Homo sapiens: one gene and its partner. The protein of the gene in region 1 interacts with the protein of each later gene in a pairwise test. Each region holds a gene or a part of one and is shown on either strand. Other genes may lie near its edges.

Region 1 (3,844 bases):
TCTTCTAGAATCAGTAAGGCATATATAATGTGTTGGCAGCCTAAAGACTGGAGCCAAAGATTATAAGGCAGCTACATGATTGTGAGGGATGAAAGATAGGTGCTAGAGAGAAATCCAGGATTTGGATGATTGATTAACGTGAGAAGAAGGGAGAAATACAGGATGATTGCTGCTTTGAGACTATAGGGTAATGGATGATGGTGCCTTTCAAGAGATAATTAAAGGTGGGGAAAGGCATGAAAGCAGATGATGATGACCATGTTAATTGTGAGCCCTTTGTGAGGCATTTAACTGGAGATATCTGGAGGGTGTATATACAGAACAAGTAAGGATGTAAATGTGGGTAACAATAACAAAAGTCAGTTGACAAAGGAAAAGAAATAAATGAGGGAAATTTATCAGAAAAGGCCAAAGAAGTAGGGAAGGAAATAAAAGAATGTGGTAGTGTAGAAACCAAAAACAGATAATGTCAAGAAATAGGGGTGGTCAACAGTGTTAGATGCTGCTGAATAACATAAGGACTGAAACATGCCCATTTTAGGCCAGGCACGGTGGCTCACTTCTGTAATCCCAGCACTTTGGGAAGCTGAGGTGGGTGGATCACCTGAGGTCAGAGTTCGAGACCAACATGGTGCCCCATCTCTACTAAAAATGCAAAAAAATTAGCTAGGCACAGTGGCGGGTGCCTGTAATCCCAGCTACTTGGGAGGCTGAGGCAGGAGAATTGCTTGAACCCGCGAGGTGGAGGTTGTAGTGAGCCAAGATCACTCCAGCCTGGGCAATAAGAGTGAAACTCTGTCTCAAAAAAAAAAAAAAAATGCCCGTTTTATTTTTATTTGAGTCATTGGTAATCTAATGAGAAGTTTCTCTAGATGCTGGAAACAGAAACCAGATTTCGCCACAGGTTGCAGAATAGATTGAATAGGAAGAGGTTGGGCTTGGAAAACATAAGAAATAGAAAACCTCGGTGTTAAGATTTTTTTTCAATGCTTGGCTTTCATAAAGAGAAGGATTTCAGGTTCAAGATAAAATTGGACATATTTATGTAATGGTAGGAAAGTGTCAATAGAGAGTGTGTATTGAAGAAAGAGGAAAGACGGGATAATTAAGCAAATGCCCAGAGGTGAGTAGGATCGGTAAGTGATGGATGGATTAGCCTTGCATAAGAATCAGATATATCTTTATGTACCATTGGCAGATAATTTTATAGGTAGAGGACAGAAAGTTGAGGGAGTTCTTTCATGTTTTTTCATTATGTGAAAGAAAATACAGCCCACTGAAAAATTTGAGAGGGGACACTAAAAAGCCTTAGAAGAAATAAAATTTCTAGTAGTTTCTTAGGGGAATAGGAAAAGGTTATTTTAGAATAAAATAATGAAGTAAGCAAATAGAAAATTCAAAGATGACTCCACAAAAAATTGAGAGAAAAGAGGATGTATGAAAAAGGAGCTTGTTTAGGGCCAAATATAAATGTGGTCATTATTGAATCTTCTAGCGGAATTATCTAATATCTATTCCAGCAAGAGATGGAAAATCAGGAAGATGTCCGAAGCGGGCCTAGATGTACTATATGACACTCTGTTATATCATAGACCACTGTGCTGTCTTTTCTTCAACACATGCAAGATTTTCATTTCTCAGATGTCATGCAGCCTCTCAGTTGGAACAAGATGGTGAACCTTGGGTCTTATATTGTTAGAGGGTTTAGAATCACATGTACTTGAGGTATGATTTGTGGTAGGTAAAGTCATAAGCTACCACAGACTGCCCTTTTTGGTTGTTGCTCCCATGAACTCTGACCATGTTTCTTAATACTTATTTTATTCTGCATCTCGATATCATAGACTCTCTGTCACCTAACCCTTTATTATTGTTTTTAAAAGCCATTTTGTCTCTTTATACAGGAGCTGCTTTTTACTTAATATTTTCTTTATCATATTATTTTCTTTCCCCATTTTTTACTTAACATCCATTCCATTTGGCAGGGGGGCTTCATGTCTTATCTCTGAATCCTGGCTGATTACAATGTTTCTGGAGTGCTTTTGATGGGCAGTGAGTAAATGCTTGTTAATGAATGAATTATTGTTTCCCCTGGATCTTTGTCTTTTATCCTTCTTAGCATCTTTTTTTATTTTTATTTTTATTTTTTTGAGATTAGGTCTCACTCTATTGCCTAGGCTGGTGTGCAGCGACGCAAACACAGCTTGCTGCAGCCTCAACCTGTTGGGCTTAAGTGATCAATCCTCCCACCTCAGCTACCTGAGTAGCTGGGACTACAGGTGTGTACCACCATGTCTGGCTAATTAAAAAAAAATTTTTTTTTTGTAGAGATGAAGTCTCACTGTTGCCCAGGCTGGTCTCAAACTCCTGAGCTCAAGTGATCCTCCCACCTCACTCTCCCAAAATGCTGGGATTACAGGCATGAGCCACTATGCCTGGCCATTAGCATCTGGTCCCTTCTGTTAATTATTTGGTCTGATCATATTCCAATAATGCTTTCTCATCCTTAATTTTCTTGAACTTAGTGGAGTTTTTTTTCATCCTACCCTGTTTTCCTTGATAGACTGATTAATCCCACCTTGACTTTATTTGTTTCTTTGTTTGCCCATCTTACTTTGTTTCTCCTTGCTTCAAAGACCTTGGTTGATCTTTGTATTTCCTTTTTATTATTCCAGATGTTTTGAACAGAGATAAGGATGAGGAGCCAACTGTAAAACAAGAGATTGAAGAAATTGAGGAAGAAGTGGAACCACAGGGTGTAATAGTTACAAGAATCAAAAGTGAAATTGACCAGGATCCTATGGGTAGAGAAACATTTGAACTTGTTGGTAGGTTAGATAAACAAAGAGGGATCTTCCTATGGGAAATACCAAGGGAATCTTTGACCCAGGAACAGAGAATGTTCAGAGAAAACACTAACATTATCCGTAAAAGACCAAACTCAGAAGAGAAATGCCATAAATGTGAAGAATGTGGAAAGGGTTTTGTCCGCAAGGCCCATTTCATTCAACATCAAAGGGTCCATACTGGTGAGAAACCTTTTCAGTGCAATGAATGTGGGAAAAGTTTTAGTCGCAGTTCATTTGTTATTGAACATCAGAGAATTCACACTGGGGAAAGGCCCTATGAGTGTAATTACTGTGGAAAAACCTTTAGTGTGAGCTCAACCCTTATTAGACATCAGAGAATCCACACTGGAGAAAGACCCTATCAGTGTAATCAGTGTAAACAGAGCTTCAGCCAGAGAAGGAGCCTTGTTAAACATCAAAGGATTCATACAGGTGAGAAACCCCATAAATGTAGTGACTGTGGGAAAGCCTTCAGTTGGAAATCACACCTTATTGAGCATCAAAGAACTCACACTGGTGAGAAACCTTATCACTGTACCAAATGTAAGAAGAGCTTTAGTCGAAATTCATTGCTTGTTGAGCATCAAAGAATTCACACTGGGGAAAGACCCCATAAATGTGGTGAATGTGGGAAAGCCTTTCGATTAAGCACATACCTTATACAACACCAAAAAATTCACACTGGCGAGAAGCCTTTTCTTTGTATTGAGTGTGGAAAAAGTTTCAGTCGGAGCTCATTCCTTATTGAACATCAGAGGATCCATACTGGTGAAAGACCTTATCAGTGCAAAGAGTGTGGGAAAAGTTTCAGTCAGCTTTGCAACCTTACTCGTCATCAGAGAATTCACACAGGAGACAAGCCCCATAAATGTGAGGAATGTGGAAAAGCCTTTAGTAGAAGCTCAGGTCTTATTCAGCATCAGAGAATTCACACCAGGGAGAAGACTTATCCATACAATGAAACTAAGGAAAGTTTTGATCCAAATTGCAGTCTT
Region 2 (3,844 bases), on another chromosome or scaffold:
TGCAAAACTGCAAGCTATTATTTCAGCGGTGCTCTATTTTTACGTCCAGGTTGCTGCTATTTAATGTCGCTTCCAGTAGTGTCTAATTTTCTTGCAGAGAGGAGAGCAGATACTGGCAGTGTTTGACTTACCACCCACTTTATGGCTCAAGCCAGCCAGATTTGGAGATTCTCTTAACATTTTCTTAAGCAACCCGCATGTAATTTGAGGAAACTGGGAATATTTTATGATATTCTCCTGATATCACTGAGATCTTTCTGGGGATATTGGTTTCTAGGAGATCCCAGAATTAACAGAGCCATGTGGGACAATATTGCTTTATGGATGTAGTAACTTCTTTTTCTTTTTTTTTTTTGAGACGGAGTCTCGCTCTGTCGCCCAGGCTGGAGTGCAGTGGCGCGATCTGGGCTCACTGCAAGCTCTGCCTCCCGAGTTCATGCCATTCCCCTGCTTCAGCCTCCTCAGTAACTGGGACTACAGGTGCCCATCACCAAGCCCGGCTAATTTTTTTGTATTTTTAGTAGAGACAGGGTTTCACTGTGTTAGCCAGGATGGTCTTGATCTCCTGACCTCGTGATCTGCCCACCTCGGCCTCCCAAAGTGCTGGGATTACAGGCGTGAGCCACCACGCCCGGCCAGATGTAGTAATTTCTAAGTATCTATGTTTTATTTGGATCTCCATGTTTTATTTTTTTTTAAGTATGCAATCTTCTTAATAGTACTGTTTGATCCTATGCAGAATAATTTGGGCATTTACAAATACATTGTACCTTAGATTAATTCTGCAAATAAATTCATTAATGAATAATTATCTTCTTTGCCATAATATCTCTTTTCTGTAGAACCTCTTACAATAAAGAGAAGTATTGCCTTTCCTCTGATCTTGTTTCACTTGAAATTTTTCATGTAACAGGAAATAGCCTAGGGTTAAAGTTGATATTAAACGTGTGGCTGACCTTTTTATTATTGATGGCAAAGCAGTATGATTGAAATGTGGTTTGCTGTATTATAAAAAGATATTTTTATTCAACAAGGAACACGGATTATAATGTTTTATCATCATCATGGTGAGATGCGGTTTTGCTTTAAGTGGTCACTTTATTTTTAGCTTTGCTATCATTTCTAAGAACACTCCAACAGTAGACACAGTAATCACTCCGCGTAAATAACAGATATAGCTACATCAACCCAGGTGCTCAGATAGCAAGTTGACAGTAGGGAATTACATTTTTAGTCATTCCATAAGCACAATTTTCACTGAAATCAGGAACAAGATGTCATTAGGAACTTAATTACTTCTGTTAGCTTGGTGTCCTACCTGGGGTCAATGTCTCTGCTATCAACTTTTGTCTTCCATACATCTCTATCATCTCATCTTAATTATGTCATCTACCTATAAATGTTTGAGCTTATTTTTATCACCAAGTGTTTTTCTTAATACCTAAGAAATATTAAGTGCATTAGAAACTTATAATGATAATTATAGTAAAAACATCCTTCAATTAATTAAGCACTTATTATGGGCCAAGTACTGTATTCGGTGTGTTACTTAGAAGCTATCTCCTTTAGCAGTAATACAAATGTTGTATGAAACAAATACCATTATTGCTCTAATTAATTTGATAGGGAAGAATTTTGGCAGGACTGATTAACTAGCTCAGTGTCAAATACATACTGGTGGGCAGGAATTGTCTCCCATTTTTGTGAGGATGTCTGTGAAATAACTTTTTTCCCCCTGGTGATTAGGGTTAGTTACCTAAATTCTATGTACCTCAGTTTTCTCAGTTCTGTAATGGGAATAATGAAAAAACTGTTGAGGGGAAAATGATAATGAGTTAATAACAATGAGATTATAATATATGTAAAACACTTAGTCCATGGCACATTTCAAGCACTCACTAGATGTAAAGTGACTTGATCATGATGATGGTGATGGTGATGGTGATGATGACTCCTTTAGCTTTCAACTGATCTTAGCTGCAGAATCCAGGGCTGAGTATGAGCTGAAACTATCTCTTCTATGTCCATGATATTTCAATATAGATGAGTGATTAGAACAAAATGTGAGTGAAACACAATTATTCTTTATTCTTTTTTTTTTTTTTTTTCCTGAGATGAAGTTTTGCTCTTGTCGCCCAGTCTGGAGTGTGATGGCACAATTTCGGCTCACTGCAACCTTCACCTCCCAGATTCAAGTGATCTCCTGCCTCAGCCTCCTGAGCAGCTGGGATTACAGGTGCCTGCTACCATGCCTGGCTAAAGTTTTTTGTATTTTCAGGAGAGATGGGGTTTCACCATGTTGGTCAGGCTGGTCTCGAATTCTTGACCTCAGGTGATCTGACTGCCTTGGCCTCCCATATTCTTTCTTGATTAATTGACTTATGCCTTTTTAAACAAGGACTTGTTGATTATACTGTATGCAAAACAATTTGCACACATGAAATCTCATCTAATGCCTAACATGACCTGGAAATCCCATACTTTACTAATAAAAAGCAGAAACTCAAAGTAGTTACGGGGCAAACATCAAATCACAGAGCGTCAAGTGGTTAAGAGGAAATCAGAGCCAGTTTTCTAACTTTGTCCATTATTTTTTTCGGTACACCACCCCATTTAAAATGTGGAAAATTCACTAGTGCTCTGTTCTCACTGGCCTCATGTAACTTTTAATTTCAAACCATTTCTGGATGCCTATGCTTCCTTCTGGTGCTTAATGAACTTGAAATGTCATCTAATGAGAGTGTTGTTAACCTCTGGCCCCAGGCTCTGATGACTCTTTCCAACCTCTTATTTTCCTTCCCCTTTAGAAATTATTATTCTATTATTACAGGATGTCTGGAAAATAAGAAAGAAGTCCAACTCCCACACATTACCATTCCTCAACCCTGGTTTTCCTTTCTTTTTTTTTTCCTTCGCTTTTCCTTCCATTCATTTCACAAACATTTATTGACAAATAAGTGTTGATAATTCCTGGCAAGCTAGGTATTTTGCTAATTGCTGGGAATAAAAGAAACACTAATTGAGTATCTAAACCTGCTGTTTGATCTTCCTACTTCTTTTCTATCTCATTTCCATTAACAGGGCTGATTTTCTCTTTGAATTATTTGAATTGCATTGCTAAAACACTTTGTTATTTCAAGCTAATACAGAAACAACCTTTTCACACATGCAATTGTCTTTTCCACCCATTTATCTCAATTAATGAGCAAGTTCATATGCATGCTGTTTACATTATCTTTCACCTTTTTTTTTGGCATTTGAGTCACTGTTTAATCTTTTAAAGTTCATTTATATACTCTAATCCACTGAATCAAAATTAACAATCTTTTTTAACTGGGCCTCAAGGTCCTAGTTTATTCATTATTATTCTGTTTAACTTTCTTAAAAATTAGCCCATTTATTTATCAAAACTCTGTAAACTATCAGTTGAAAGCCAAAACAGAACCATAGAAGTAAACACTGTATTTCTCTATCACACCAAAGTCAATCAAGAGTCATTCTTCTCTGTAACTCTGTTTGGTCTATGTTGTTTATGCAAGGGGCTTATCTTTCGTGTGGGGAAAGCAGGCCCAATATTCACACTACTTCCCTCAAATTTGAAAGTTTTCAGTGTTCCCTTGTCCTCTTCCAATTCTCATGTGCAATTCTTGACATGTCTCTATTTTGATAATAAAATCCCTGATCTAGATCTTGGTCATTTGGAACTTTGCCATACTGTAATAGTTTTTAAAGAGTGATTCTCATTTTATAACACTGACATCACTCATTTTTCAAGAGGAAACAAAAAACAAACAAAAGACAAATTTCAAATGATCAATTTTTGACCTATTTTAAGCCTGTAAGA

What was found.
Region 2: the proteins of ZNF189 (region 1) and DLC1 interact in a two-hybrid assay, tested with the Homo sapiens proteins (one large-scale study listed by BioGRID and IntAct).

Annotation. Positions count from the first base shown.
Region 1 is NC_000009.12:101,405,254-101,409,097, forward strand, and holds part of ZNF189 (zinc finger protein 189), read left to right. Parts: exon of another isoform or gene 1-2,045; coding exon of another isoform or gene 2,046-2,052; intron 2,053-2,158; coding exon of another isoform or gene 2,159-2,279; intron 2,280-2,675; coding exon 2,676-3,844.
Region 2 is NC_000008.11:13,508,081-13,511,924, forward strand, and holds part of DLC1 (rho GTPase-activating protein 7), read right to left. Parts: intron 1-3,844. UniProt on the Homo sapiens protein: Functions as a GTPase-activating protein for the small GTPases RHOA, RHOB, RHOC and CDC42, terminating their downstream signaling.